Linked DNA regions of Homo sapiens: all the other regions are linked to region 1. The links come from fine-mapping of genetic effects on gene expression. A gene starts in region 1. Each other region holds a variant in brackets. All regions are shown on one strand. Distances are between the middles of the regions.

Region 1 (10,693 bases):
GTCTAACCTTTTTTCAAGGTTTCTAGCTTCCTTGCAATGGGTTAGCTCATGCTCCTTTAACTCAGAGAAGTTTGTTATTATCGACCTTCTGAAGCCTACTTCTGTCAACTCGTCAAAGTCATTTTCCACCCAGTTTTGTTCTGTTGCTGGCGAGGAGCTGCGATCCTTTGGAGGAGAAGAGGTGCTCTGTTCTTTAGAATTTTCAGCTTTTCTGCTCTGGTTTCTCCCCATCTTCGTGGTTTTATCTACCTTTGGTCTTTGATGTTGGCTTGGTTTTGGTGTGGATGTCCTTTTTGTTGATGTTGATGTTGATGCTATTCCTTTCTGTTTGTTAGTTTTCCTCCTAACAGTCAGTGCAGGTCTGCTGGAGTTTGCTGGAGGTCCACTCCAGACCCTGTTTGTCTGGGTATCACCAGCAGAGGCTGCAGAACAGCAAATATTGCTGCCTAATCCTTCCTCTGAAAGCTTCATCCCAGAGGGTCACCCGTCTATATGAGGTGTCTGTCTGCCCCTACTGGGAGGTGTCTCCCAGTTAGGCTACACGGGGGTCAGGGACTCACTTGAGGAGGCAGTCTGTCTGTTCTCAGAGCTCAAGCGCTGTGCTGGGAGAACCACTGCTCTCTTCAGAGCTGTTAGATAGGGATGTTTAAGTCTGCGGAAGTTGTCTGCTGCCTTTTGTTTAGCTATGCCCTGCCCACAGAGGTGGAGCCTGTAGAGGCAGTAGGTCTTGCTGAGCTGTGGTGGGCTGTGCCCAGTTTGAGCTTCCTGACCATTTTGTTTACCTACTCAAGCCTCAGCAATGGTGTATGCCCCTCCCCCAGCCAGGCTGCAGCCTCGCAGGTCGATCTCAGACTGCTGTGCTAGCAGTGAGCAAGGCTCCGTGGGTGTGGGGCCCTCTGAGCCAGGCACAGGAGAGAACCTCCTGGTCTGCTGGTTGCTAAGACCGTAGGAAAAGCAGTATTTGGGCAGGAGTGTACCGATTTTCCAGGTACCGTCTGTCATGGCTTCCCTTGGCTAGGAAAGGGAAATCCCCCAACCCCTGTGCTTCCTGGGTGAAGTGACACTCCACCCTGCTTTGGCTCGCCCTCTGTGGGCTGCACCCACTGTCCAACCAGTCCCAATGAGATGAACCAGGTACCTCAGTTGAAAATGCGGAAATCACCCTTCTTCTATGTCGATCACGCTGGGAGCTGCAGACCGGAGCTGTTCCTATTTGGCCATCTTGGAATGGACCCATCCATGTTATTATATAAATAAATAGCTCTTAAACTTGGAAACATTTTGACCATTGTTTCTTTGAATATGTTTTCTGTCCCTCTCCACCCGCTTTGAGGACTTCAAATCCACGTATATTAAATTGCATGAAGTTGTCTCAGACTTCCTGATGTTCTGTTATTTTTTCTCTCTGAGCTTCATTTTGCATAGTTTCTATTGGCATATCTTCAACTTCATTGATCTTTTCTTCTACAATTTATAACCTGCCATTAATCCCTTTCAGTGTATTTTTCATACCAGGCATTGTAGTTTTTTCAGTCATTATAAGTTCAATTTGTATCTATTAAATGTTTCATGTCTCTATTTAACTGTTTGAACACAAGAAACACAGTTATAATGTCTATTGTAATGTCCTTGTCTGGAAATTCTAACATCTGTATCATTTCTGGGTTCGTTTCAGTAGATTGGTTTTTATCCTTATTACGGGTTATATTTTTCTGCTAGTCTGTTCTATGAGCTCTGTTATGGATTGAATTGTGTTTTCTGTTCATTTACATGTTGAATCCCTAATCCTCAATATGACTGTGTCTGGAGATAGGGCCTTTATTATAAAGCTATACTAATTAATATTGTAGAGTTTTGTTATATCAATAGAAAGACAAATGGAACACAACAGAAAGTCCAGAAACAGACCTTTAAAGATATGAAACAAACTCAAACATATTATGAAACACATGATGAAGATGGTACTTCATAATCAGAGATAAAATTATGCATGGTTTTAAAAAATGGTATCTGGACAGCAGGCTACCCATTTAGAAATGGATAAGTTAGATTCCTTTCTAAAATCATGGAATACTTGAACAAAACCATAAGAGATAAGAAAAAAATGGAAAATCATGAAATCCAAATGTATCAAATATAAAAAGTGAAAATGAAGTTACAATAGAGCATGAAATAAAAATAAAAGTTATTATGCAGATGTAAGTTTGATTTTAAGGTTATCCATAATATATTATTACACAAAAAAAACTTACACACTATAGGGTATAAGTCTAGTTTTGTAAAAAAAAATGTATATGCTTACATAACGCATTGGACAGGACTCTTTGGTTGCAAGAAACAGAAACTCATCCAATTAAATTCAAATGAAAATAAGAGATTTTCATTTTTGTGTTCACATAACCAAACCAAGAAACACAGTGTCTGTGGGGAATGGAACTCAAGTTCAACAGGATCCAGCACTCAAAGGCACCAGGACTCACTTTCTGTCTCTTCATTTTTTGTTACAGCTTCTGTCTCTGTGCTGGTCTTATTCTACTGGGGTCTTCCACATGACAGAGGAACTGGTTACTAGCTGCCCTATAGTCATATCTTTAGGTCCCTCAGTTTAGGGAGAGAGGAGAGCTACCTTCCTACCCAAACCCTGGGCACCCATCATTGCAAGTTGTCACTCCTACACCTGCGGGTATCTAGGATCAGCAGCCCCATTTGAATCACAAACTGAAAAAATTTCCCAATGGAGGGGGATTTTTGGTATCAGAAATGCAGGAGAGGTTGGGCGCAGTGGCTCACGCCTGTAATCCCAGCACTTTGGGAGGCCAAGGCAGGTGGATCACAAGGTCAGGAGATTGAGACCATCCTGGTTAACACGGTGAAACCCCGTCTCTACTAAAAATACAAAAAATTAGCCGGATGTGGTGGCAGACGCCTGTAGTCCCAGCTACTCAGGAGGGTGAGGCAGGAGAATTGCTTGAACCCTGGAGGCGGAGGTTGTAGTGAGCCGAGATCACGCCACTGCACTCCGGCCTGGGCAACAGAGTGAGACTCTATCTCAAACAAAAGAAAACAAAACAAAAAAACAAAAAAGAAAGGCAGGAGAGGTGGGGAAGGATGCTAGGGAAAATAAGCAGGAATTGTGTTGTGAATATGTATATAATATATGCATAGTTATGATTAGACACAGCTATGGCTATAGATATAGATGTGTATACATATACACGTGGGTGGTTAGGAAGACTGAACTATGGGTACAACATTTGTTTTCTCTACGATGGTTTTGTTGTGTTTTGTTTTGTTTTGAAACAGAGTCTCACTCTATCACCCAGGCTGGAGTGCGGTGGCACAATCTCAGCTCACTGCAATCTCCACCTTCCAGGTTCAAGTGATTCTCCCGCCTCAGCCGCCCGAGTAGCTGGGACTACAGGCACCCACCACCATGCCTGGCTGATTTTTGTATTTTTAGTAGAGACGAGTTTCACTTATGTTGGGCAGGCTGGTCTCAACCTCCTGACCCCAGGTGATCCACCCACCTTGGCCTCCCAAAGTGCTGGGATTACAGACATGAGCCACTGCACCCAGCCTATGGTGGGTTTTTTTCTTACTTGGATTTTTTTCTATAATTAATTATCATTAATTATATAATAAATAAAAGATTTAAAAAGAAACTATGCACATTTTTTTTCCCAAAAGCCTTTCATTACTTTCCTGACATAGATTTGCCCTTCCCACTGAGGCTATAGGCATGAGTTCTTTGACTTATGACGTAGTCTGGGGCAGCCTCCTCTGCCGGGTACACAGCAGCTCTTCCATGTGGCTAGGTTGCCAGCCTATTTACATATCACACTATTTATGATGGCACTGGGTGAAATACCCTGATCAGTAGGGTCTGGCTTATTGTCACTGTTCCAAAGAGACCTGTCCTCATATAATGTCATAAAAGAGGAACCCGTTATCAGGGTCCAAGGAGACCTGGGAAGGCCCCTATAGTGTCGTCAGTCATTTTTAGTCTCGGGAGAGCCTTCCCTTCTCCCCAGCATTAAGGATGTCATATTTTTTCAACAATAGGAAAACCATTCCTGAGGGCAGGGTCTGTGGTTGTCTTTTTCCTTGCTGTGTCCTGGTACCTAGTGCACAGCAGGACTAGAGGAGTGAATGGTGCCACCTATGCTCCTTGGTTTCTCTGCCCTATCCCCTGTGCCCAGGGCGCATGTCCGGAGGGTGGCATGGAATCCCTTGATTTTTTGGAGGCTGTGGGCCAAATCCCGCATCACATCACAGGAGTCCCTATGTAAGCCAGGTGTGACCAGCTGTAATCTCCTCTCATTTCAGAGTCATTCTCCCCTCCTCCCTCTCTTCTCCTTCCCTGTCCCCACTCCGCAATTTGGTGTTCACTCTACTTTCCTCCATGACTTGACTGAGGGACTTGGGTGACTCCTCCCTGGAGATGACTCTTGGCACTGCTGGAGCATTTCATACAACCCAGGTCTCTGTTCCAGTCTTGTTGATTAAACCCATGGTTCTCCTCCAAGCATAAGGCTGGGCCCAACCATAGTCTCAACCAGAGAAAGGGAAAAAGTGACCAAGCTGTTTTCTTCCTCCATCCTTATCCAGAGAAAATATTAGAACCCCAGGAACACAGGAAGAGGAGAAACTAAAAAAATGAGCACAGACTTCCCGTTCTCATCACAGCGGTGATTTTTTTGGTCACTAGGTCTGGCCAGAGTTCCTCTTCTGTTTGGAAGAGCAGGGCATTGTCTGAGTGCCCGGGAGAACTGCCCACCTTCCTGACTGGAAAGTGTGGCCAAGGCACCTGCCTGCTTCTCTGTCTTTTCTCCTGCCAGGCCAGGTGCCAGATAGAGCATCCAGAGGTTTGCACAGGAGAGGTGCTCAGGAAAGACCTGTAGATGAGCATGATAATAGGAAGATGGCTTCTGACTCCCTCCCTCTCCACAAAGTGGGAAATGAAACTTCCTATGGTTTGGGACTTTTACATCCACCTCCTCTGAAACCCCAGAAGGCCCACAGCCCAGGATTCCATGCCTTTGCTCAGCTTCCTCATGCTGGAACAGCCTTTCGCCTAGCGGTAGCTATTCTACCTACCTCAGCCTGCATTTCCATCACTTGGAGTAAATGCTCCCTGCTCCAGCCCCTTCCTATGCCATGGGCCCAGCCGCTAAGGCTTCCTCATCCTTTCCTGGGACCAATGAGAGGGCATCTGGGGGGCTCTATAAAGTATAACTCATACCACAAACCAGCAGAGAAAACCCAACTTCCTGACCGAGCGGAAATGGACAAGACACTTCCCAGGCACACTGTGTGGCGGCTTCTTTCCCGCAAATGCCTCAGGAGGAGACATGGACCCCTGCAAGGCCCCTTCTACCAGGGTCTTGAGTAATTTGGATTCTTCTCTATCCCCAGGCCCAGAAATAGGACAGGCTATGGATGAAGGGCCAGGAGCCAGGAGCAGAAGGGCAGAGATGATTCTGGAGTTAGGCTGGGTCCCAAGCATGAGAGTCCAGAAGTGGAACATTCTAATCCTGTCTAAGCCCTGATGGAACCAAGGCTCTGCAACCACACGAGCCACCTGAAGAGAGTAGGAATCTTCATGGACACCCAGAGGCAGGCAGTGATGTGGAGCCAGGCCCTCATATTCGGGACTATCAAATGTTAAAATTTAGAGCAGACAGCAGGCCTGGAAGTTACAGACAGGCTGGGTAGGGAAGCGATGGGACAGAACAAATGAGACACCATCTTTGCTACCCAGTTTCCTTCCCAGAGCTTCCCAGTGTGGGGTCCTCTCTGGGTTCCCTCATCCAGTCCGAGAAGCCACTCCAGCCTGAGGCCCGGTTAGCTGGAGAGAGAGCATCAAGGGCCTGTAACTACAATGAGCTGCACATAGGCATGGGCTGAGCGTGCAGCCACTATCCTCCCAAGTACCAAAGGTGGCAGTAGCCCCTGAAAGCATAGGTAGATATTTCCTTGGCCCTGTTAACTTAACCTCTAATCCTGGTCCCTGATACAGGCTGTCATCCAGCTCCACTGGCTCAGCCTCAGCAGGCCCAGGACAGCTTTCTTTTCCTGCGGCCAGAGCTTTTGTTCATTCCTGGGTAAGGAGTAAATCACACTTCCCCTTATGCTTTTGCATTGAAGATGAATGAGAACTTCTGGAGACAGTGGAAAAAAGCAGCAGCTTCTAGAAGGCAGATCCCAGGCCCCAGACTGTGTAAATGTCTGAGTGGCATGATCAGCTATCAAGTCTCCAAGTCACTTACCATTCACACATCCATCCATGCATCCTCTATCCATCCATTCATCCATTCACCCATCCTCCAATTATCTGGACCAATTTCCTTCTTTTTTCTTTCCTTCCCTCCCTCTTTCCTCTCCTCTTTCCTATATTCCAAGAAATATTTGTCTAGAGTCTGCCATGTGCCAAATTTCTCAGATTTGGCAGACTTCTTCAAAGCATGAGAAGCCGCCCAGGAGAAAATTTAGTCCTTCATTGAGCCCAAATCAGCTCTTCTGTGCCCTGAGCTTCTTGCACATATGGAACTCTCTATTTAGGACTACAAAGAAGGAGAGAGGAGGTGCGGACAGAGAGAGAGGAGAGAGAAACAGAACGATTCCTAGTCTGAGGTTGCTGAGCGCCCCTACTTTTTTTGAAAATCTCACATGGTGCAGGAAGCAGGGAGGAGAACCCAAGTCTTAGGTTTACACTTTGAATCTCCAAGTTGCATATTATAAAGGGATATTGTATCAGCCAAGATGCATTAATAACAGGAAGCAGGATATTCTATTGCAATGGTTGCCTATTTGGTATCTCTGCTTCCAGGCTTCTCCCCACCAGTCTGCTCCTCACCAGGATCAGAGTGATGTTTCTACAGTGTCCCTGTCCTTGTCTCTCTCCTGCCTGAAGTCCTTAATTGGCCCCATGTCACCCACAAGCCAGAGGTCCAGCTCCTTGACATGATCAGAAGGATCTTCATCATCAGACCCCAGGTGCCTCTTCAACCCCGTGTGCATCCCCTTCCTGTTGGAATGTATATTTTACATTCCAGCAATATTGCAACTATTTACAATTTGCCAAGCACTCCATGCTATCTTATGCTCCATCCTTTGGCATATGCTTATCTTTCTACTGGATTTTTTTTTTTCCCATTACTCCATTTCATATGCTTCTTTGAACTGGGCATATTTGTCTCTTGTGCTCATCACCTTGCAATTTATTTGCTCATGTCTGTCTTTCCTACCAGACTATGAGCTGCTTGGTGCAAGGACTGCGAGTTATTCATCACTGTGGCCCTATGCCTGGTAGAGCATCAGTACCTAGAAGGCACTCAGCCTGTATTTGTGGGGTGAATGGATGGGTGGATGGATGACGAGAGTCTTACAAGAGAAATGGGATAGGTTTGGGACAAGATGGTTAATGTATCCATGTAACAGACCCCCAGAGAAGACAACAAATGGCCTCTTCCTGAAAGCTCAGACTTCTGAGGATGGGAGTAAGCCAGACAAGGTATCTAGTCAGGAATAGGGAAGTTGGGATGATATGGTGACCTGCTGTGGGACTGACTTCCTGTTTCCTCTAGATAAGAGCCCTTGGAGAGACAGGCAGCCAGAAGCACCTGTGCTCCCAGGATAAGGGTGAGCACTCAGGATGACTGTGGAGAAGGAGGCCCCTGATGCGCACTTCACTGTGGACAAACAGAACATCTCCCTCTGGCCCCGAGGCAAGCCACATCGCTGCTGAGAACCTGCTCCGTGTTCTGTGTGCAAACCTGCCCTTTGCTGCTCCTTCAACACACATTTTCTTCTTCTTCCAACAGAGCCTCCTCCCAAGTCCGGTCCATCTCTGGTCCCGGGGAAAACACCCACAGTCCGTGCTGCATTAATCTGCCTGACGCTGGTCCTGGTCGCCTCCGTCCTGCTGCAGGCCGTCCTTTGTAAGTCCTCATGTTTCATCGTCTGGGCTTAGCCCCTCTCTGTGGCCAGCCGGCTCCCTTCAGATCGAGACCACTTCCCTGCTCTCCGGGTTTCTCCTGCCTGTGGCTTTTTCATTTGTCTCCTTCCTCCTCTTTCCATGTGCAGTAACAGGCTGTGCTGCCCCCAGTACGGTGAGCTGATGCTCTTTCCCTCCCAATTTCTGGGAGATTATTGGGATTAGCATTTGCACATTGGTGCTCAAGGATACATTCTTTTGTCCTCAGGAAACATTGATCTAGTTTTACATCCTGTGCTATTTTCTCCCCGTCCACCCCCCACCAATCTGAGCTCTGCTCCTTGGATCTAGAGCCTTGTGGACAGTCCTTGACAGTGCAATGTCTCCTGACCCTGTGAAGGACCGAGCCTCATGTATCATTGGCCCCAGCTCACCAGATGGAGAGCCTGGCCAACGAGCCAACAGATCTCCATGACTCAGTCCCCTCTCCCCAGGACTCGTTGGTGCTGTCTTCATTCTCCTGTCCCTGTGAAGATCACATCTAGGGAGGCTTCCTGCTCATTTGATGTTGCATGGTTTATCTTTCTTCCTTTTCTGGCTCTGTCAGGCTTCATGGCCTTTGCTGCTGGCAGAGCCTTCTTCCTCCTGCCAGGGCTCCAGGAAGCAGAGCAAAGGGACCCAAGAAGCTGTTGGGTTTTTTTTTCTCCCTCTGTGGCCTCGGGACATATTTGGGCTTAGACTTGTAGGCTCTGAGCAGAGTCCCCCTTGCCCCATCCTAGACCCCTGGCCTCTAACATCGCATTTTCCTCAGGGCTCGCCTTTGAGCCTCTTGGTTTATCTTTGATCCTCTCTCTGGTACCCAGGCCTGGGACCTGAGCAGAATGTGAAAGTGGGTGGGGCAAGGGAAGGGGAGAAACAGTTTTGTAATCTCCTCTTCCATGTTCTCTGGAGAAGCCACTTCCAGATTAGTGGCTGGTTCTTCCCATGGTCACAGAGGGGCCCATGGACAGATGTGGGGGAGTGGTGCTGTCCTAGCAGATGGCCACTGCAGGGGTTTCTGAAAACAGAGGGATGGCAACCAAGGGGTGGGGTCTAGGGGGAATCAAGTTCTGGGGACAGTGGTGGGGCTCATGGAGGGCACCCTTTATCAAATGTTCCCTGAACACTCAGAAAATTCAGGAATGGTTTCTAACTCCTGCTTCTGCTTGCCTGTGAAATCTTTTCACAGAGAGCCTGTGTTTTATCAATCTCCCCATTATCTGTATCCACCTGTGTTCCTGGCACATGGTAGGTGCCCATTGCACGTTTGTTGTACGTTAATGAATGATTGGAGGGTTGGGGTGGCCCATTGGACTGTCTTGGTTCTTTGGGAAGCTTCAGCCTATTCCTTCCCTTCCTTTGATCAACCTGACAACACCCCCACTCCTGTCCCTGGGACTCCCCTCAGCTGACCTCCTGACTTTCTCAATCCCAGATCCCCGGTTTATGGGCACCATATCAGATGTAAAGACCAATGTCCAGTTGCTGAAAGGTCGTGTGGACAACATCAGCACCCTGGATTCTGAAATTAAAAAGAATAGTGACGGCATGGAGGCAGCTGGCGTTCAGATCCAGATGGTGAATGAGAGCCTGGGTTATGTGCGTTCTCAGTTCCTGAAGTTAAAAACCAGTGTGGAGAAGGCCAACGCACAGATCCAGATCTTAACAAGAAGTTGGGAAGAAGTCAGTACCTTAAATGCCCAAATCCCAGAGTTAAAAAGTGATTTGGAGAAAGCCAGTGCTTTAAATACAAAGATCCGGGCACTCCAGGGCAGCTTGGAGAATATGAGCAAGTTGCTCAAACGACAAAGTAAGTGACTCAGAAAATTACATTGAAGCTGACCAGTGGCCCATGGGATCTTACCTGTCCCAGACCTGAGGCCATTGGGCTGGTGGGTTGGGGAGGAGAGTGGGGGCAAAAGAGGGGCAGCCATGGGCTAGGAAGTTAAGGAGAGAGGGCTTGAGGTTGGGGAGGACTTAGGGGCTGTTAGGAGAAAAGAGACCAGGGTCCAGCTAGAGCTCCCACACAAAAGTGCAGAATGTAAAAGCATTAGGGGATGTCCACCCTGGCCCACACCTAGTCATTTCCCATCAAGTTCCTTTCTAGAGTCCAGGGGCTCAGCCACTTGTCATGGCCGATGGAGGGTTGCTTCCTCATCATGGGGAAGACACTCTTTGTCCAACCTCTTGCATTATAACCTCTCCAGTCCCAGAGACTCTATTAGTCTCTGTCTGACTTTCAGGATTTGAAAGAGTGTCCCTAATCTCCTATACAAGGACCCAAGGACACCAGCGCACAGCTCCATTTGCTGCTGTCTCTGAGACCTCATTCAAGTGCCCCCACCAAGCCAGCATCCCAAGAAATCAAGAATACCAGCGTTCACTTTTACCTCTTGTTCTCTAGATGATATTCTACAGGTGGTTTCTCAAGGCTGGAAGTACTTCAAGGGGAACTTCTATTACTTTTCTCTCATTCCAAAGACCTGGTATAGTGCCGAGCAGTTCTGTGTGTCCAGGAATTCACACCTGACCTCGGTGACCTCAGAGAGTGAGCAGGTGAGTGCTGTGCCTATGGGCTCTGTGAAGGGGGCGTATGAGCACTGGGCCAGGGAGGATGGGCAAGATTATACTGCGTGAACAAAAATCCCCAAATATTGATGACCTAATGAAGAAGGATTGGTTCTCAGTAGCATGTCGAATAAGGGCCGGCAAGGGGGC
Region 2 (10,693 bases), 32 kb before region 1:
AGCCACCACGCCTGGCCCCATGTTATATTTTTAAAGATCCATCTCTGTTGCTTCAGATGGCTGTATAACTCTCCATGGTGTGCAACCACTTCATTTTACTTCTCTGCTCTCCCAAGATTAGATATCTAGGTGGTTCCAATAACTCCCCTGCCTCCTCAAATAATGCCATAACAGGCTGGGCATGGTGGCCCATGCCTGTAATCCCAGTACTTTGGGAGGCCGAAGCAGGTGAATCACCTGAGTTCAGGAGTTTGAGACCAGCCTGGGCAACATGGTGAAACCCCATCTCTACAAAAAATACAAAAATTAGCCAGGTGTGGTGGTATGTGCCTGTAGTCCTGGCTACTCAGGAGGCAGAGGCAGGAGAATCACTTGAGCCCAGGAGGTGGAGCTTGCAGTGAGCCAAGATGGTGCCATTGCACTCCAGCCTGGGCGACAGAGCAAAACCCTGTTCAAAAAAAAAAAGCCACAACAAACTTCCTTGTACAGGTTTCCCTAAGCATCTGTGGGAAAATATCTTTGGGATCTATACCAGGAGTAGAGTTTCTGGGTCACTAGAAACATCTAACTTGCCTAAATATTGTCAGCTTGCTGTCCAGAATGGCTGCTCCAGTCTACACTCACCAATGTGCACGTAGTTTTGTGTATCCACACATCCCCTCCACTGTCAACTTGGTATTTTCCCACTCTTGAGTTTTTGCCAGTCAGCTAGGCATCAAGGGATATTTTGTTGCTCTAATTTCCACATCTCTGGAAATTACCAATGATCTTGAGCATCCACCCAAATGCTTATTGGCCCTTGGCTTTTCCAGGTCTATGCATTTAGCTGCATGTAGTCCTCTATTTTCTTAAAACCTATAAGGGCTCTGACTGTTCGTATTGTTTTCCAACCCTCCCAACCTCCAGCCCTTTAAACGTCTTGGAAAGCTTTTTATCAGCTGCATGGAAGTGCATAGCTTGAGTGACCCATAAAGTATTAAGCCATTTCCCTATTAATAGGCATCTGGAGTCTTCAGAGGTTTTTCACTACCACAAACGAATTCTCCCATAACCCTCCTTAAACATACATCTTTGCACTTGTGCCAGAATTTCTTCAGATAAATTTTTAGAAGTGGTGTTTTTAGTTTAGCATGCGTGTTTGAGGACGCCATATTTAGCCATATGTAAGAGTGTCATCAAGTCTGTGGTGGAGACCAGGGACTCAGTCAGAGACCACAGTTTGGGAGGAAAATAGGTATCACTGAGAAGTGTTCCTGATTTGAGAAATAGGAAGAGACATTGAAGCTGGAGTTAGGTAATAAGGACAGTTGCCAGGAGACAATGCTGAGCACAGGTGGGTAGTCAGCCATGTTGGCTGGGACGTGCCAGGCAGTGGAAAGGGAGGACACAGGTTTCCTGAAACTGCTCTGTAGACACCATCAGGCCCAGAAGCAGCTGCTCTGGAAGGAGCAACAAGGGAATTGTGGGTCCACTGACAGGAGTAAGCAGTATTTTTTCACAGGAACATTGACCACCACCTTCCCCTGATGGCCCCAGAGAGCAAGGGTGGACAAGTGGACACCTGCCTGGTCGCAGTCTTCTTTACAGTCTGAGATCTTACTTCCTATGGAAGCGCGAGGATGTAAGTTTCTGCCATATACAGTTGGGCACGTTGTGCATTGCATAAGGTTACCTGGCTCAGAAGGTAAATGGGGACTGAAAAAATTACCCTGAGCTAATTCTTACAGATTTTTTTCCCTGTCTCTGGGCCATGAGGGAGAAGACAGTGCTAGGGCTCCCTGGCCTCAGGTCAGCTGCACAGAACTATCCAGGGGACGGTTCCCAGGATCGCTCTCTCACCAGCTATCTCCTACCGAAGAGGACATGTCTCTCTTTCCAGCACTCCCTCAGGGAGGCAGCCCACACTCCCTGGGGAGACTCCATCCTGTTCCCCTTTGGCCGAGCCTATGTGGGGCTGTGCAGTGAGAAGAAAAGTAACATTTTCTTTGGGTGCAGGCTGGGGCAACTGGGCTGAGCTTCAAACTTGTTTTCTTTGAGGAAGAATTGAGGACTAATTATATGCACCAACTGCTGGCTGTTAAAGAAGGAGACAGAAGGCCATATGAGGTGGCTCATGCCTATAATCCCAGTGCTTTGACCGACCAAGGCAGGAGGATGGCTTGAGGCCAGGAGTTTGAGAACAGCCTGGGCAACACAGTGAAACCCCATCTGCACAAAAAACTTAAAAAAATTAGCAGGTGTGGTGATGTGCATCTGTAGTCCCAGCTACTTGAGAGGCTTAGGTGGGAGGATCACTTGAGCCTAGGAGTTTGAGGCTCCAGTGAGCTATGATTGTGCCACTGCACTCCACCCTAGGTGGCAGAGAGAGAGACCTTGTCTCTAAGAAATAAAAAAGAAGCCAGAAAGAGATGGGGGGGTCTTATTTCTTTTTTAGGAATCCCCAACCTCAGTCACAGAAACAAGCACCTACAGAGACAGAGACACAGAAGTTCATGGAGACCCAGGCCCTGGGCAGGCACTCTCAGGTGGCCCAAACCCCCAAGGTGGGTGAGGACCACTGTGGGCTTGGGGAGGGAACAGCCCTTCCTTTCACACAGCAAGAGAAGTTTGGGCTACCCAGGTGCCGAGACCAGCTCGTCTGGGGAGACCCTAACCCAGTGGCTCTAGAGGAATTAAAGACACACACACACACAGAAATATAGAGGTGTGAAGTGGGAAATCAGGGGTCTCACAGCCTTCAGAGCTGAGAGCCCCAAACAGAGATTTACCCACATATTTATTAACAGCAAGCCAGTCATTAGCATTGTTTCTATAGGATATTAAATTAACTAAAAGTATCCCTTATGGGAAACAAAGGGATGGGCCGAATTAAAGGATAGGTTGGGCTAGTTAACTGCAGCAGTTATTGCTCATGCTATTGTTTGTGGCTTAAGAATGCCTTTAAGCGGTTTTCTGCCTTGGGTGGGTCAGGTGTTCCTTGCCCTCATTCCAGTAAACCCACAACCTTCCAGTGTGGGCATTATGGCCATGATGAACATGTCACAGTGCTGCAGAGATTTTGTTTATGGCCAGTTTTGGGGCCAGTTTATGGCCAGATTTGGGGGGTCTTGTTCCCAACACCAGGGGGCTCCAAGGGGCTGGAGTTTGAGGAGATCTGGACAGGGTCTGAGGTCAGCCAGGGGCTGTGTAGCGCCCAGTGTAGAGCTGTGGCAACCTCATTCCCACTCAGCTTGGCTTCACAACAGCTCACGGAGCAGTTACTTTGATGAGGGACGGGGCTGGGCACTGTAATCCCAAAATGCCTGACAGGTATTTTGAGATTGGAGACACCCCCCTGCCCCACCCTCCTTTTCCTGAGGACCAGGCAGCTCAGGCATCTGGGAACTTTTTCATGCCATGTGACCCAGAAATTCCACTCCTGGATATAGATCCCAAACATAATCTCCCACAAGTGCTAAGGAAACCTGTACAAGGAGAGATACACAGTTGGGCAATTATGACGCAATAAGAAAAGTGCTGATGAAGGTGAATATTAAGCACTTACCGGTGTGCCTATGAGCTCCCTAACGACCCAGTGAGGTGGGCCGTATTACCCCATGTAATAGATGGGGAAGCTGAGGCTCAGACAGGTCAGGTAACTTTCCCAACGCCACACAGTAAACGGTGGAGTGGAAACATCCTTTCAGCCTCATGGCAGAGCCTGTGCCCCCATCACTGCACCACACGGCCCTTGGTACCACACTGATGGAGGAAGGCGGCGGTAACGACAGTGTCCTGGGTGTCAGGGACCGGGACGTGCCCCTGGCGTACGCACTAATACCACGCCCCAGTCTTCAGGCTAATTTCACACTGACAGGGCTCTCCTACCCTGGCCGCCGCCAGTCGGTGCCCGCCCGCCTCCAGTAGTGCTGCAGCTGTCCTGCCGGCCACCTCCAGGGAAGCGGCCTTGTGCTGCCCTCTGCTGGTCGCAAACTTACAGCACCGAGGGGTTTCGCTCTTCGCCGACTTCCTTGCGCAGGCACCCCGGGTGGTGGGCTATGGCTCCCTAGGGTCCAGAAATGGGTGGATGGGGGTGGGAAAAGGAGGGAGAGTGGGGGATGTCTCCAACGAGGCCAGGCCCGGGAAGCTGGCCGCGTGTCTAATTTCTCTGGTTACACCTGTTCGTGCCCAGTGCAGCAGTCCACGCTCCCTAATCCTGGTCCATAAGGGAAGGGGCAGGACGGACAGCCCCATTAGGATGGGAAACCCAAGAGGAGTCCTTTATGCTCCCGGAATACTCCCTGAGTACTGGGGGTACAATGATAATGAAAACATCCACCTTGCTGTAGTGAACAACGGCAGCTCCCACCCCAGGGTACCCCTGTGGCCAGACGTCAGTCACTGTCCTCTTCCTCTTAGTGACTAGAGGCCATTTTGAGTGTCTGTAGGGGAGATAGACATAGGAAGATTATACGGGTGATGCATTCGAAAATAACTGTGGCTGTAAAGGGCGAGCCTGGCACCAGGAGGATCAGGAGCCAGGGAGAGCTTGCACTTGAGCAAGGCTTGGTATAATCCACAGGAGTTGGGCTTTCTCTAGGAGGAGGCCCTGGGAACAGAAGAGTCGGAGAACAGCTCAACTCTGTGTATCTGCATCTGCTCTGTTCCAGGATGCACGCCCCCTTTTCCTCAGCTTCCAATCCTACATCTTGGCAGGCTGCCAGAGATTAGGCCCTTGGAGATATGGGGTGATATTTCTTCTTTGTTGTTTGCCATTGTAAGAGGACAATCATTAGCTTTACCTGAACAGATAAAACATGACAACAGGAATATCAAATATGTTGGGGAAGGAGGTCCCTAATGCTCAGGAGGATGACAGTTCCTTCCCAATCCACTCTCTGTCCCATGTGAAGGGCATCCCCAGCCAACTCTTCTCCAGAAGCACAGTCCCAGAGTGGGAGGTGAGAGGGAGCTGCTCTCATCCTGCTATGATCTGAATGTTTATGTCCCCCCACAGTAATGTGTTGAATCCTAATCACCAATGTGATGGTATTAGGAGTTGGGAACTTTGGGAGGTGATTAGGTCATAAGCATACAGCTGTCATGAATGGGATTAGTGTTCTTATCAAAAGGACTCCAAGGGCCAGGAATGGTGGCTCACACCTGTAATCCCAGCACTTTGGGAGGCCGAGGCTGGTGCATTGGCGGAGCTCTGGAGTTAGAGACCAGCCTGGGCAACATGGCAAAACCTTGTCTCTACAAAAAATACAAAGATATCTGGGTATGGTGGTGCATGCCTGTAGTCCCAGCTGCTTGGGAGGTTGAAGTGGGAGGATCGCTTGAGCCTGGGAGGTTGAGGTGGCTGCAGTGAGCCATGTTCATACCACTGCACTCCAACCTGTATGCCAAAGTGAAACCCTGTCTCAAAAATAAATTAATTAATTAATTAATTAAATTTTAAAAAATCAAGAGCTATAAAACAATGGAACAGCTTCATTCCCTACTCCAGTCCCCAGTCACCCAGGTACC[C/T]TCCTCAAAGGCACTCAATAGTGTTAGTTTCTTGTGTAACCTTCCAGGGGCGTCCTGTGTATGCACAAACAAATGCACACACAGCCACATAGGCCACCCTCTTTACGCACACAGCAGTTCACTTAAATTGCTTAAGAGAGGGTTCCATGTACGTGGAGATCTTCCTGGAGCTTACTGGAGAAATACCAGCATCATTCCCGCTGAAGCCAAGAGCAAAATCCTGTGATTTCTGAAATGTAGCTGGAACTACTCCCTGGAGCAACCCTGTCATTTAAAAGCTGCAAAGAAGTGGAGGTGGCAGTTTAACTTTGGGCAGGCTATTATTTTAATTGTGGCTTGCCCTGCCCTAACCTTTTTGCTTTAGGATACCCATTGGGTGCTCCCTCAGCCTGTGAAAATGGCCCAGAAGGTTTGGGCAGGTACCCATGGGGTACTGCCTTAAGTCCATTCAGACTGTTGTAACAAAAATACCATGAACTATGGGGCCAAGCGTGGTGGCTCACGCCTGTAATCCCAGCACTTTGGGAGGCCGAGGTGGGCAGATCACTTGAGGTCAGGAGTTTGAGACCAGCCTGGCCAACAGAGATGGCAAACCCCATCTCTACTAAAAATACAAAAAAAAAAAAAAAAAAATTAGCTGGGCGTGGTGGCACGTGTCTGTAATCCCAGCTACTAGGGAGGCTGAGGCAGGGGGATTGTTTGAACCTGGGAGGCAGAGGTTGTAGTGAGCCGAGATCATGTCATTGCACTCCAGCCTGGGAGACAGACAGAGACTCCATTTCAAAAAACAAAACAAAACAAACAAAAACACAAACCCATGAACTGGGTAATTTATAAACAGTAGAAATTCATTGCTCACAGTTTTGGAGGTTGGGAAGTCTGAGATCAAGGTGCTGGCAGATTCTGTCTGGTGAGGGTTTGCTCTGCTTCAAATATGGCCCCTTTTGCTGAGTCATCACATGGTGGAGGGGCCAGGGAGCTCCCTTCAACTTCTTTTCTAAGGGCTCTAGTCCCATCCATGAGGGTGCAGCACTTATGACTCAACCATGTCCCCAAAGGCCCTGCCTCTTCATACCACCCCAGTGTCCACGTAGGTTAACACAAATGAATTCTGGAGGGACACATTCAGATTATAGAAGGTATGATCAGGGCAGAACATAGACCCTGCTGGGGTATGTGAGGGTGACTCTTTTGAAAATTATAATTTTATATCCAGGCAGATTGTCACTCAGATATGAGGGCATACTAAACATTTTTCTCAATATATACTGTAGGATGACCTACGCTGAAAACGCTTTTGGAGAAAGAACTAAAAAAAGATGAGACAGAAAACCTAGCTATATGTCTTTTTAAACAGACACATTTAAGATGTAAAGATACGGACAAACTGAATGTGAAGAAAGGGAAAAAGATACATTGGACAAACAAACAAAAAAGCAAGCATGGCCATATTAATATCATTCTCATGACAAAATATTCACTAAGCAGATAAAACAGGTTTTTTTTGTTTTTGTTTTTCTTGAGATAGGGTCTCTCTCTGTCCCTCAGGCTGGAGTGCAATGGCACAAAGATGGCTCACTGCAGCCTTGAACTCTTGGGCTCAAGTGATCCTCCCACCACAGCCTCCTGAGTAGCTGGGACTGTGTGCACCACCACACCCACCAATGTTTTTTTTATTATTTTTTGTAGAGATGGGTTCTCCTCTGTTGCCCAGGCTGGTGTCAAACTCCTGGGCTGAAGTGATTCTCCCACCTCAGCCTCCCAAAGTGCTAGGATTGCAGGCATGAGCCACCACACCCGGCAACAGTTCTAAACATGTATGCAATTAACATGGTTTTTTTTTTTCTTTTGAGACAGAGTCTCACTCTGTCGCCCAGGCTGGAGTGCAGTGGTGCAGTGGCGCAATCTCGGCTTACTGCAAGCTCCGCCTCCTGGGTTCAAGCCATTCTCCTGCCTCAGCCTCCTGAGTAGCTGGGACTACAGGCACCCGCCACCACGCCCGGCTAATTTTTTGTATTTTTAGTAGAGACAGGGTTTCACCATGTTAGCCAGGATGGTCTCAATCTCCTGACCTCGTGATCCGCCTGCCTCGGCCTCCCAAAGTGCTGGGAGCAATTAACATGGTTTCTAATGATAACATAAAAACGAACGAATTATAGGGAGAAATGTACACATTTACTATCCTAGTGAGGGATTTCAAAACACTTCTAGATTATTGATAGGCCAAACAGATAAAAAAAAAATCCCTGTGGCAGATCTAAAATCACAATCAGATCCCAAACTTTTTGTAAGTCTGGAAGAATAGTTTCTAGCCTTCCATCTGCTGTGATTTAGGGAAGAACATAACAGTAATGGAAATGGATGCGGCAAACCAATAAATAACAGTTGGTATATCAGTATTCAGTAATCATATTGCTATGAATATGTAAACATTATTCACAGCTGAATCACAATTATATTTTCCTTTCCTATACTACTTTAAAAAATTAATAATTATTTTTTCTTTTCATTTGGTTAGTTTTCTATATGCTTTGAAATAATTCAACCTCAGACTCTGCCAACTCTCTACAACTCCTCTCAATTTCTTCAGAAAAATCTATCAATTTTCATTGCCTTGAATATCTTTCTCCTGGGCCGGTTAGATTTCCCAGAGAAGGCTCTTCCAGTCTCCTGCTTGCAGAGGAAGACCAGGTGTCTTAGGGGCTGGGGATGGGATTGAGGGTCTCAACATTTGGTAAACAAACTCAACTTTCCTTGCTTCCCTTAGCCACATGTGAAAAAAGTTGGAATTTTCATAAAAGATTTTTACCAAAGACTGAAGGAGAACAATATTTAATAGCAATAAAAGACAAAAAAAAAAAAGAGCGAAGAAGAATAAATATTCTATATTCTATAAATGTAGCCAAGCTATAAGGGTCAGGCTTTCTTTTTAAATTTTTATTCTGAGACAGGGTCTCACTCTATTGCCAGGCTAGAATGTAGTGGCACTATCATAGCTCACTGCAGTCTTGAACTCCTGGGCTAAAACAATCCTCCTGCCTCAGCCTTCTGAGTAGCTTGGACTATTGGATCATGCTATCATGCCTGGCAAATTAAAATTTTGTTGTTGTTGTTGTAGAGACAGGGTCTTGTAATGTTGCCCAGACTGGTTTTGAACTCTAGGCCTCAAGCGATCCTCCTGCCTCTGCCTCCCAAAGTGTTAGTATGACAGGTGTGAGCCACTTCACCTAGCCAGGGTCAGGCTTCTGAGCCTACCAGAGCTGACTCCTCTTTAAGATCCAGGGGCTCTTTACTGTTTCAAAACCTCCTTCTGGGATCACCATACTCCAGAACAGAATTGACTGGATAAAGTGGATTCATAATCCATAATTTCTGACTGGTTGGCTGCAGCTGCCTGGTTCACTGTGTGAGGGTGACTCTTTTATTTTAGTCTTTTATTATGCATTTTAGAAGCAAGTACAAAAGTAGAGGGAATAATATAACTCCCCCACCATATACCTATTACCCAGATTCCACAATTGACCTTATTTTATCTATATCCCTATTCTTCTCCCTGAAGTTATTTTATTATCTGTAAATACTTCCGTATGTATTTCTAAGAAGTAAGAACTCTTTTTTAAAAAGTGTAATAATTAGTCGGGCATGGTGGCTCATGCCTATAATCCCAGCACTTTGAGAGGCAGATGTGGGAGGATTACTTGAGCCCAGGAGTTCAAGACCAGCCTGGGCAACACAGCGAAACCCCATTTCGACAAAAAAAATAAAGAAATTAACTGGGTGTGATAGTGCACACCTGTAGTCCCAGCTACTTGGGAAGCTGAGGTGGGAGGATCACTTAGCCTGGGAGGTCAAGGCTGCAGTGAGTGAGCCATGATCGAGCCACTGCACTCCAGCCTGGGTGACAGAGTGAGACCCTGTCTCAAAAACAAACAAACAAGCAAACAAAAAACACAGTAATTATACCTACAGATTAGTACTAATAGCCAGTCATTGTTCACATTTGCTCTTTTGTCTCACATGTGTTTTCTTTAACAGGTACCTTGTTTCAATCAGCATCCAAACAAATGCCATACATTGTGTTTGTTTGATACATCTTTAAGGCTTTTAAAATCTGTGACCATTCATCTTACTCTTTATGTATGAGTGTGTGTGTGTGTGTGTGTGTGTGTGTGTGTGTAACTAGAGCCGTTGTCCTTAGCATTTCTCATTCTTTGGACTTACTCACCATGTTGCAGTATCCTCTGTACTTCCTTTAATCTGGCAATTAGATTTAGAGGCCTGATCAAATTGAGGTTTGGATCTGAACTCAGGTGGTTTTTTTTTTTTTTTTTTGAGACAGACGCCCAGGCTGGAGTGCAATGGCGCGATCTCGGCTCACTGCAACCTCCGCCTCCCAGGTTTCAAGCGATCCTCCTGCCTCAGCCTCCTGAGTAGCTGGGATTACAGGCACCGCCATCACGCCCTGGGCAGATCACCTGAGGTTAGGAGTTCAAGACCAGCCTGGCCAGCATGGTGAAACCCTGTCTCTACAAAAATACAAAGGGTTTGTTTGTTTGTTTTAATAGAACCTCATGAATAGTGCTGGGTACCAGGAGACTTGCTGCCGGGGTGTCCTTTTGTGCTGGAGGGCTTCTGTCCTGACTATAATGAGCACTTCTGGACAAGGCAGCAAAGGAAGAGGGCCCCTTTTTCTCAGGAGCCTTTCTGAGAATCCTGCACCTGCAGCAGCCCAGTGACTCCTGACCCCCTGGTCTCTTTTTGGTGGGTTCATAAGCAACACTGGTCTAGAAGTCTGAGGGCTTGAGTCAAAGTTCTGACCTCACTAGACAACCTCAGGAAAAGTCAGCTAACTTCTTGGGGTCAGGCTGGCTCCATTTTACATTAGCTAACTGAACCAATAAAGAGTTATTTCAATACATGGTTGAGTATAGCATTATAGCTAGGACTGGACTCTGCACCTGGGCTGCCTGTGTTGGAACACCAGACTTGCTGCTTAATAGCTTTGTGACTCTGAATAAGTTACCTAATGTATCTGTACCCCAGTTTCCACATCTAAAAAAAATGGGCCTCCTGTGAAGTCACCACCTTACAGGGCTGTTGTGAAAATGAAATGAGTTAGTGCAGGGAAGATGCTGAGGACTGTCCCTAACTCATGCTGGGTGCTCACAATGTGTTTGTTGCTGTG
Region 3 (10,693 bases), 50 kb before region 1:
CCAAGGGCCCTGCCAAGGCAAAAATCTCTTCCCCTCCCTCCAATTTCACTCTGTGAAGGGAGCTCTCTCCCAGTCTAAGAGGTTCTCGGTAGGCTGGATTCAGGCTCCTGGCACAGCCCAGGAGGGGCCTTTTGAATTGAGGGGCAGTATCATTCACTGCAGGGGAGCTGCGGCCTCTACAGAGACTGAAGGAAACTTGGACTGCAAGGACATGGACACTTGCAGGGCAGAGCCTGGATCTACCTTGACTGGGTGGTGGCCTTAAGTTCTAGAACTATGTGTGTATGTTGTGTTGATTTTGTGTTTTGGTAATAGCTTTATTGAGATGTAATTCACATATCATAAAATTCACCCATTTAAAGTGTATAATTCAATGGTTTTTCGTGTATTTACAGATATGTGCAACCATCACTACTGTCAATTTTAGAACATTTTCATCACCTCAAAAAGAAATCTCGATCCCCCAGCCTTCTATCTCCTCAAACCCCCAGCCCTAAGCAACCACTAATCTACTCTCTGTCTCTATGGATTTCCCTATCCTGGATACTTCATATAAATGGAATCATATCATCTGTGGTTTTCGTGCCTAGCTTCTTTTATTAGCATAATGTTTCAAATTTCATCCATGTTGTAGCGTGTATCAGTACTTCATTTCTTTTTCTGACTGAAGAATATTTCATTGTATGATTAGCTCACTTTTTGTCTATCCATTCATTATTGATGGAAATTTGGATTATTTCTACCTTTTGTGTGAGCACGTCTGTGACTCCCAAACTGGTTTTCAGCCTTCAGGTCAGCGCTTGACCAGAAGAGTGGGGGAGTTTTCTTGGGAACAGCTAGATGAGCCCGGCAAGGCTTGGGAAATGCCACTGGATGGCTATGGGTCCCCAGCTAATCAGTCACCTTCTGGAAGCATTCTTTCTGGTTTTGTCCAATGGGGAGGAGCCACCTGGACTGCAGCCTTATAGGAATACAGTCTCTGGAGCAATGATTCAGAGTCGTGGCTCTTGGCTAGGTTGGGTTCAGATCCTGGTTCTACCACTTAACTAGTTGCTAACAGGCTGCTGAACCTCTCTAGGCTTCAGTGTTCTCATCCATTAAGTGGGAGTAATATTAGTATCAACCTCTGGAAATGTTAAGAGGAGTAAATTAATATATTCAGAGCACTTAACCCAGTGCACTTTACCTGGCACTCTGTGGGTGCTGAAGGAAAGATTTAAGCTTGTATCATTTAAGGCTTAGAGCCAAGAACACACTGTAGCCCTAATTGCTCCCTCTCCTCCTCCTGCCAGGGTGAATGAAGAAATGAGGAGGTTAGCCATGCCCAAGGGGAGCAGCGGGAGACTGTCCAGCATGCGGGTTGTGAACCCAGATTCCAGGGCCCTCCACACTGACTACCTTAGTGCCTGTCCCAGGTGGTGGGTGCAGGAGAAATGCAACTGGCTGCCAAGGCTGAGGACAGCAATTCTCCTCCCAGGTTGGCTCAACCCTCTTTTTCCCAAAAGTGGCCATTGGGCTCAGAGGACAGTGTGCTGTGAGGCCCAGGCTGGAGCCCTGTCTTCATCCAACTCGGCCCTGGCACAGACCCTGGGGAGCATTCTGAGTTTATCATTCCAGTCTCATACCCAAAGCCAGATCCTGCATTTTTCCCAACCTGAGAACCCCAGCCTATTCATCAGCCTTTCCTGAGGCCCAGGGAAGAACAATTCAGGGAAGGAACAGCAACTCGAGCCCAAGAAAGATCTGAGTCCTCTGGCAAAGAGGCAAACGGAGATTGCAAAGGCTGTGTGTGAGTGTGTGTGTGTGTGTGTGTTTGTGTGTCGCGGGGGAGACACGGGAGGGGGCAGGCATCATTTCCCAGGCATTTCCCACGTGATGCTCCTGGAAAGCTCAGGGTGCAGTTTGGATCACTGGGACTGCTCTCTGGACTGTCTTTGGGGAGGGGCCTGGAGGTCAGCATGGGCGGCCTTTATATCCTTTGATACCTTTTGAATTTGTGGTGTGTTAAAAGTCAAACAAATCCAGTAAAACACAAATTTAAATGTCATTGTTAGAATGGATTTGAAGCATTTCGTTTCTGTGTTTCCATCAAGGGCAGTGGCTCACCTTTCCTTCCTGACTGTGCCTCAGAGAGGTTGCCTACAGTGACTTACCACTTAGGCAGGTCTTCTTTTCGTCTTTGCCACTAGTCACTACAAAGTAGGCAGGTCTCCTTTTCATCTTTTTGTCCTTTTTGTCTTTGCCATGCCTTCTGTGCAAGCCAGAACACTGTACATTCAAGGTCACTAACCACCTGTCTCCCATGTCCCCAGTGCTAGGAAACCCTCAGGTTTAGGGCCCTGTTGCCTCAAGCAATAATCATTTGCGATCAGTGATCTGTGTCACCTGCAAGCGGGTTCCAGACTGACCTTGGCAATCAGGAGCCAGGCATCTCTGGCACCTCTTCCTAGGTCACCCTCTCTCTGGTTTCCCCTTCACCATGTGAGCCAGAAGCTCTGCTCTCGGGCTCAGGTGGGTCCCAACAAGCATCCAAGGCCTGTCTGCTGAGTGGCCTATTGTCCATGGTGAATAGGAGGGGTTACCTAGGGACTGAGTCTCTAGGAGCCACTGGCCTGGGTGGGACCAGGCTAGAGGAATTCTCTATCTCTTGACCCTGGGAGAGGACTTTCAAAATGCAAGGGTGAGGAGCTGAATGACAGCCTGTTTTGGGTGACTGTTGGGCCTGTGTGGGAAGGCACTGGCCACTATCCAAGGCCCTCTAGAGGTGGCAGCCTCGGGGGCCCGTCCTCTTACCCCAAGATGCTGCTAGGAATTTATATCTACTGGAAACAGTTCTCCAGGAGCTGTTGCACATTCTTTGAAATATTTGTCATCTAACAAATGTTTATTGAGTTCCTAAAATATGCCAGGCACTAGGGGACAGCTGTGAGCCAAACAGACTCGAATAGTCGGTCATGTAGCCTATATCACTGGAGATGGCCAACCTTCCAGGGGCAGTCAGACTGATACAGGGCCAAGGCTGGAACCCTGGAGTTTGATCTTTGGGGGTGGGAGAAGCATGCTACCTGGTTGTTTACATGTTGCACATACCAGGGGATAAGTCTAAGTATCCGATTTTTTTTTTTCCTGGCTAGAAAACAGCCTCTGAAAATAACTCCCCTTAAATAAATGCTTTTTACTAAGCCTCCATGGTCCTGTAATAAACACCAAGAAGGGGAGTACAGTGCTTTGTGTTGGGTTCAGTTTGCTTACAAAACAAAACAAAACAACCCCAAACAAATGTGCAGACCCTTGCCTTGGAGGTGTTTGTGTGTGTGTGTGACCTGTGTTTGTAAATGTGTGTAGTGTGAACTAATTTCATCAACTTTTAAAATAATGACTTTTACTATTTTTTTTTTAAGAGACAAGGTCTCACTCTGTCGCCCATGCTGGTTGCAGTGACACGATCACGGCTCACTACAACCTTCTACTCCTAAGCACAAGCTATCCTCCTGCCTCAACCTCCTGAGTAGCTAGGACAACAGGCAGGCACCACCACACTCGCCTAATTTTTTATTTTTTATTTTTTTGCAGAGACGAGGGTCTCGTTATGTTGCCCAGGCTGATCTGGAACTCCTGGCCGCTAGGGCTTCTCCCTCCTTGGTCTCCTAAACTGTTGGGATTACAGGTGTGAGCCACCCCGCTCTGCCTTTTCTTTTTTTTCTTTTTCTTTTAAAAGGAAAACATGCATCTAAGAAAAAATTCTAAGCAGCACAAAAGATTAAGAAATGACTACCAGGTGTCTCTCCAGAATCTCAGCCCCATCCCTAGAAGCTCAAGCTCTCGTCCCATCTCACTCTCCGGTTTTAAAAATGAGATCAAGTCGCCCTGTCCGCGGTTCTTCCTGCCTGCCCGCCTCGCCGGCCTGGCTCTGGCTCCTAGCGGCGGGTCTCCTGCTTACCTTTCCTGCGCCCTCACTGCGCGCCAGCCACTTGGGAGAGTGCTTGCTTCCCCACAGCGTCGCCAGTTTGGTGTGTTACCGAAGATTTTGATCTTTGTGGGTCCGATGGGTTTCTTAAAGAAAGACATGAATTATGCTAGGGAAACAAGAGGAAGCAAGAGAAGGGCAGAATGTTTGAGGCAAGAGACGCTTTGCTTGGGTCCTGGGGGTGCGAGCGCGGGCTGGGGACAATGCGGGGGCAGTAGTTGCCTGAGCTCCAGATCACACCTGCACTCAGAGGCGGGAAGCCCTTATCCTGGTCACAGCCGCGCGAGCGGAGAGAGGCGGCGGGGCGGCGGGGTCAGCGGGAATTAGCGCGCCAGGGCCGGGGCGAGGGATTGCCGCGGGGCGAGAGTTCGGGACGGGATTAGCGGGTTCAAAAGCAGGTCAGGGAGAGCTAAGCAAGGCGACGAGGTCCGCGCGAGGTCAAGGTCCCCGAGAGAGGCGGGTTCCGGACTGGGCTCGGGAAAGGCAGCGGGCATTGCGATCGCGGGGAGGCTGCACCGGGAAGCCCAAGTTCCGAGCGCGTGGAGGGCTCGGCCGGCATTCGAGTGTAGGCCGCGCCCTCTGACGGCCGCGGGGCGAGGACACCTCTGACCATGGGCCTTGGTCGGGAGGAATGAGCGAGGGGCGAGGTGAACCCGGGTACGAGTGCGCGGCAACTTCAATGAATGTATCCGAGGTCGCCAGGCGCGCGCGCCGCAGATCTGCGGAACCGGGTTTATCTATTCGTCTTTTACATCGTAATCCCGTTTCCTTTTATTTTTACAACACTTTTTTTTTTCTGGCAAGGGAAGTCATCTCTTAGGCAAACAAACAGTCAAAAATAAAAATAAAAAACCGCACTGAACAATGCAAAGAAATGTTCTTGGCAGGAGCCAGTCTCTCCCGCGTCTCCTGGCACCTGTGGCCTCCCTGCGGAACAGATCCCAGAGTGTGACACCTTCTGTGTAAAAATAATCGCAACCCACACTCCACCCTTCTGTGCGTCCTGCACACGCACCAAGGGAGAGCTGGAAGGACAGCCGAGGGATACACGCTCTTCCACGAAATAAATATGTTTTAGGGGTGTGTGTGTGTGTGTGTGTGTGTGTGTCTGAGCCTCTGACTTGAAGTTATTGGAGAAGGTATTCACACATTATTTGGGTTCTCTCTTAAAGAGCTCTTGGGTTCTCTCTTA[A/C]AGAGCTCATGGGAAACACACCTGGCGGTACTGTGGGATGCGAAGTGGGCGCCTCACTCGGAAACCCCGGCCTTGGTGGATGATCTAAGAAAAAAAAAAACCCAGATGGACGGATACATGGGCACTTTCGGGATCGCTGGGTGCAGGCCGCCGTCGCCATTTCCACCGTCCACTACTCCAGGCACCTGCCTCTCGTCCCCAGCCTTGGCCTTTAGGTCTCCCTTCCCGCAGATGTCGCCTGGAGAAATGGAGCCCGGATGCTCAGGCGCGCGGCGTGGTATCCCCAAACCCGGGACCTCTGTTTTGGGTCTGGTTGATTTTCCACGGAGAACCGAAGAGTCCGCTCCTCAGGGGCGAAGTTTGCAAGTCCTTGGGGTAGATGGTGACGGGGGCTGGGGCGCGAGTGTGAAAGGACAGGAAAGGAAGGAGAGGGGAGAGAGAAGCAGGCTGAGAAGTGGGGGAAGCCGCGGAAGCCGGCAGCGCGGGAGCGGAGACGCGGAAGCCGGGTAGGGGGAGGGGCGGACTGGGACCAGGGCGAGGGGCGGGGCCGGAAACGGGCGGACTCGCGCCCTAGACAAAGCGCGGCCCGGTGGGCGAGGGCCAGCTGCTCTCCCCGCAAGGTCTCCCGAAACCGGGCTTTCGCTCGGCCAGCCGGCTGGTTCTGGTGGGGACGCGCAGGTTGCTAGTGGGGAAGCCAGTCCAAAGGGATCGATCGCCGGAGAAACCCCACGCATTCACCCAAACAGCCTTCGGCTCAGGGTGGCCGGAGCAGAGCCCAAGGGTCAAGGGCGAGGGGCCCCTTCCCTGCCCTTTTGTCCAGGTGGACTCTGTGGCCGTCGTTTTGTTCTGAGACCCCCTGGGAATGCCACTGCCGGGCCACAACCCCGACTGGCAGGTCAAGGTGCAGGAAGTCCCGCCATTAGAAATGCATTCCCCAGGCTGATATTACCTTCTTTTTCTCAGTTTTACAGTCATATACACAATGGTAAGACTCCTCTTGACGCCACTTCCAACCTCTGTGCACTGTTCGCATGGCTAGAACAGCAATAATAGAATTGAAAGCAGGAAAAATATCCCCGTGCTACCCCTAAAAGACTCAGTCTTTTTTTTTTTTTTTTTTAAATGTGCATCTTTATTTTGCATAATGTTAGTCCTGGTGAACATGTAGTTTTGTATTCAGTCTTTTCTACTTGAGGCCACACTTCAGTATTTGCTATGTGCTATGATCCTCATAAGTATACTTTTCAATGGCCGAGTAATGCTCTATTATGTTACTGTGTAATTTACTTAACCGTTCAATTACTTGATATTCTTCCGTGTCCAGTTTTTCTGTATGAAAATAATACACAACCTAAAATCTTCGTGTATATAGTTTTCTCCTTTGGGGAGGATTATTTCTTCAAGATTCTTACTGTTTCAGCAGGAAGGGGACATTTTCACTACTCTTAATAAATTGCCCAACCGCTTCCCAAAGCAATTTACGCAGGCATTTATTTTCGGGTCATTATGGGCGTGGTGCTACCGGTCAGGAATGTCCAGACTAAATCAGTCCCACCCTTAGAGCACTTTCCCTGCACCCCAAGCCTCTGGGAGGCAGGCCCTTGGAGCAAAAATTACCGCGCAAAGTGGGCAGCACGGTAGGGAGAGGAAAGAAGAGGCAATGGGAGCCGGGGAGTGGGTGAGGGGTGTGGGGGTTCTTTCCCCAGCCTGGAGAAAGTCAGGTAAGGCTTCACCTGACTTAGCAAGGAAGTGAAGGTGACTCCCGAGTACAGCCCCAGGCAGGGGTTTGCCAAGTAGAAATGGAGAGAGAAACATAGAAACCTTTGTCTGCGCAGGCTGCAAAGTTTGTTGGGTTTGGAGAGGTACGTAGTGGTTATACGCTGCGAGGGATCATAAATGTGGGTGGAAAAGTCCAGGAAAGTGGGATTCTCGCCATCCAGTCCAAGGAAATTGGAAACAGACAGCCTGGTTATTGTGCATTTGCATTATTTTAAACGGTTGCTGTATTAATAGAGGCATGATTACATAATCATTATTGTTGTAAATTATGTTTTACTGAAAACTAGTTTACATTTCCTTATTTAAAAATACTAATTGTCTTGCTTTCTGACTCTTGAGGCTGAAGAAAGAAATAGGAATTGTCCTTTAAGAAACAATTTCTTCTCTAAACCACAGTAATATGTATTTTAAATCATAAAAGCAATACATATATTATTTGATTTTTTAATAAGAATATATTCACATAAGATTAATTTAAAGATTATAAGTGAACACAAACTCATAAAATAATCAGACAAGTGTCTACAAGTCCTTCCTTAATCCTCTGTGCAGAAGTAGCATGGCTTATAGTTACTACGTTGCATATGTGAACTATTTAGATGTTTTTTGCAACAATGATTTATATTCCCTGCCACTCTGCAAATTGCCTTAAAAAAATAGGTCATAGTTTTCTTACATGTTAATGGAAGTAGCTCTATCTCATTCCTAGCAGCTGTCTTGGTAACATTATATAGATGTTCCATCATTTTTTTGTCTGTATTAAAAAATTACATATTTGTTTATGTGGTTGTATTTTATATAATAAAAGTTCAAACAGTGCCAAAAGATAAAGATAAAACATGACACCTCCCTTCATGCTTGTCCCTACTTCTACCCCATCTCATTCCTCAGAAGTGTGAAGTGAGAAGTTTGGGGATTGTTTCGGCAGCTCCCCTCCCTAGTCTGTTTTAAAAATAGTGTATTTAGGCCGGGCACGGTGGCTCATGCCTGTAATCCCAGCACTTTGGGAGGCCGAGGTGGGCCGAGGTGGGCCGATCACCTGAGGTCAGGAGATCACCAGCCTGGCCAACATGGTGAAACCCCGTTTCTACTAAAAATACAAAAATTAGCTGGGCGTGGTGGCTAGCGCCTGTAATCCCAGCTACTCCGGAGGCTGAGGCTGGAGAATCGCTTGAACCCGGGAGGCGGACGTTGCAGTGAGCCGAGATCGCACCATTGCGCTCCAGCTTGGGCGAAAAGAGTGAAGCTCCGTTTAAAAAAAAAATTGTGTGTTTAATCTTTTTAGACTGAGCACTCACGCACTCACATTCTCCTCCCTGAATTTCACAACCCCCTCCTCCAAACCACTGGGTTGTATTTGCTGTTAGTCTTTGTTGTCATATATTCTCACAAAATAAGCTCTTTTTTTTGGTGTGCGTTTTTATTGTATGTACATGGTATTGAGTTTTATATTTCATTTTAAATATTATTTAAAATTGTTAAAAACAATTTCAAATTTATGGGAAAGTTGCAAGAATATTACAAAACTCTAGTATTGTCTTTAAGCTGCAATTGCATTATCATTCTCTTTTAAAATTATTTTTATGGAAGCATTTGAGGATAAGTTGCAGACACCATGCCGTTTTACTATTAAATACTTTCGCGTGCATTTCCTGAGGGCCATCACCTACATGCCACATTGCAGTGATTAAAATTAGGAATCTTAACATTGATATATAATCTTCAGATCTTATTCAAATTTCATCAATTGTCCCAATAATATCCTTTATAATATTATTATTTTTTTCTGGTCCCAGATTTAATTCAATATTACCCATTGCATTTAGTTTTTAAGTTCTTGTTAGCCTCCTTTACCTGGAAACAGTTTATCAGCTTTTTTTGTGTATGTTTGTAACAGATATTTTTGAAGAATATGGACCAGTTAGTTAGATTGTATATATTGGAGTTCCTTGTTTTATTTTGAACAGTCTGAAACTTACAGAGAAATTGTCAAGAGCATTACAAAGAAACCCCCTCCTCCACTTACCTGTTTGAACTCAAGTTGCTGACATAATGCTTTATTTTGTATTTCTAACAAACAAGGACATTCTCCCTTGAAATCGCAATGCAATCATCAAAATTAGAAAATTAATGCTATCACAATTGACTCCTCAGACCCCCTTGTCAATGGTTCTGCAAATGTCCTTTATTATCAAAAGGATGCAGTAAAGATGTATTGCAGTCAGTTGTCACGTCTCTTTAGTCTCCTTCAATCTGTGACAGTTAGTTCCAGTCTTTGACTTTCACGGCCAGTTATTATGTAGAAAGCCCCTCGGTGTGGATTTATCTCATGTTTCCTCACAATTCAATTCAGACTATGCATCTTTGGCAGGAATATCACAGAAGTGATATTGAATTCTTCTCATTGTGTCCTATCAGATGGTACATGATTTTGATATATCCTGTACTGGTGATGTTAACTTTGATCATTTGAGTGAGAATTAAGTTTCTCCCTGTAAGGTTATTTTTCCCTTTGCATTTAATAAGTATTTTGCAGGGAGGAACTTTTAGACTATCTATATATCCTGCCCCTCATCAAGCTCTTTGTGCATTGTTTAGATCAATATCAACAAATGGATTCCTAATGTATTCAATAGGCTATATTTTGTTACTATATTATTTATTTAATTTGTGAATTGTCCCAAATGTCCTTTTTTGGGGGTAATAGCTTTATTGAGATATCATTCATGTATCATACACTTCACCTATTTAAAATACACTGTGTAATGTTTTTTAATATGTATATTCACAGAGTTGTACAACCACTCCTATAATCAATTTTAGAACATTTTCATCATCCCCAAAAGAAATCCCATTCCTGTTAGCTTTCACCTCCCAATTCTCCCATCCCTGCCAGCCCTAGGTAACTATCTACATTGTGTCTCTATAGATTTGCCTATTCTGAACATATCATATAAATGGAATTGTTCAATATATGGTCTTTTGTGACTGACTTCTTTCCCTTACCATAATGTTTTCAAGGTTCATCCGTATTGTAGCATAAATCAGTACTTCATTTTTAATGGATGAATAATTCCATTGTATGGACATACCACAGTTTATCTATTCGTCAGTTGATGGACATTTGGGTTGTTTCCACTGTTTAGCTATTATGAATACATCCTGCTGTGAATGTTCTTGGAGAAGTTTTCGGTGGCCATATATTTTCATATCTCTTGGGTACATACCTAGGAGTGGAATTGCTAGGTCAAACAACTAATTCTATCTTTAAATTTTTGAGGACCTACCGCACTGTCTTCCAAAGTGGCTGTCCCATTTTACATTTTCCCCTAGCAATGAATAAGAATTCCAATTGTTCCACATCCTTGGCAACACTTGTTATTGTCTGTTTTTTCAATTATAGCCATCCTAGTGGATGTGACTTTGTATTTCAATGTGGTTCTTATTTGCATTTCCCTGATGACTAATGATGTTGTCTATCTTTTCATGTGTTTCTTGGCCATTTGTATATCTTCTGTAAAGAAATATCTATTTATGTCCTTTGCTCTTTTTCACATTGGGTTATTTGTTTTTATATTATTGAGTTTTATTATTTATTATTTATATTTTTAAGGTAGAGTCCTCTAGTTGCACAGGTTGGAGTGCAGTGGTGCAATCATAGCTCTCTGCAGCCTCGAAATCCTGGGCTCAAGTGATCCTCTCACCTCAGCCTCCTGAGGAGCCAGGACTACTGGTGTGCACCACCATGCCCAGTT

Which allele goes with the higher level. Alleles are on the strand shown, and positions count from the first base shown. SD is a standard deviation of normalised expression in the study named. Not every link is listed here.
As copies of C replace A in region 3, the expression in visceral fat of the gene that starts at base 7,615 in region 1 goes down (moderate effect, 0.68 SD a copy in GTEx).

Evidence for each region.
Region 2: its variant is fine-mapped to the expression of CD207 in whole blood (INTERVAL, PIP above 0.99).
Region 3: its variant is fine-mapped to the expression of CD207 in visceral fat (GTEx, PIP above 0.99). The same link has a PIP of 0.9 or more in breast and tibial nerve.

The regions. Positions count from the first base shown.
Region 1 is chr2:70,832,738-70,843,430 of GRCh38, reverse strand. It overlaps CD207 (CD207 molecule), which reads left to right and starts at 7,615. Exons shown (of 6, transcript NM_015717.5): 1 at 7,615-7,727; 2 at 7,824-7,940; 3 at 9,411-9,785; 4 at 10,380-10,531. The coding sequence starts at 7,655.
Region 2 is chr2:70,864,941-70,875,633 of GRCh38, reverse strand. No RefSeq gene overlaps it. Among named protein-coding and RNA genes, the nearest start is that of LINC01143, 18 kb to the left of the region's middle. RefSeq lists an enhancer at 10,570-10,693. The variant C/T (reference allele first, on the strand shown) is at 5,509.
Region 3 is chr2:70,882,836-70,893,528 of GRCh38, reverse strand. It overlaps LINC01143 (long intergenic non-protein coding RNA 1143), which reads right to left and starts at 5,658. Exons shown (of 4, transcript NR_126384.1): 1 at 5,349-5,658; 2 at 5,181-5,243; 3 at 3,941-4,053; 4 at 3,545-3,708. RefSeq lists an enhancer at 5,151-5,801. The variant A/C (reference allele first, on the strand shown) is at 5,160.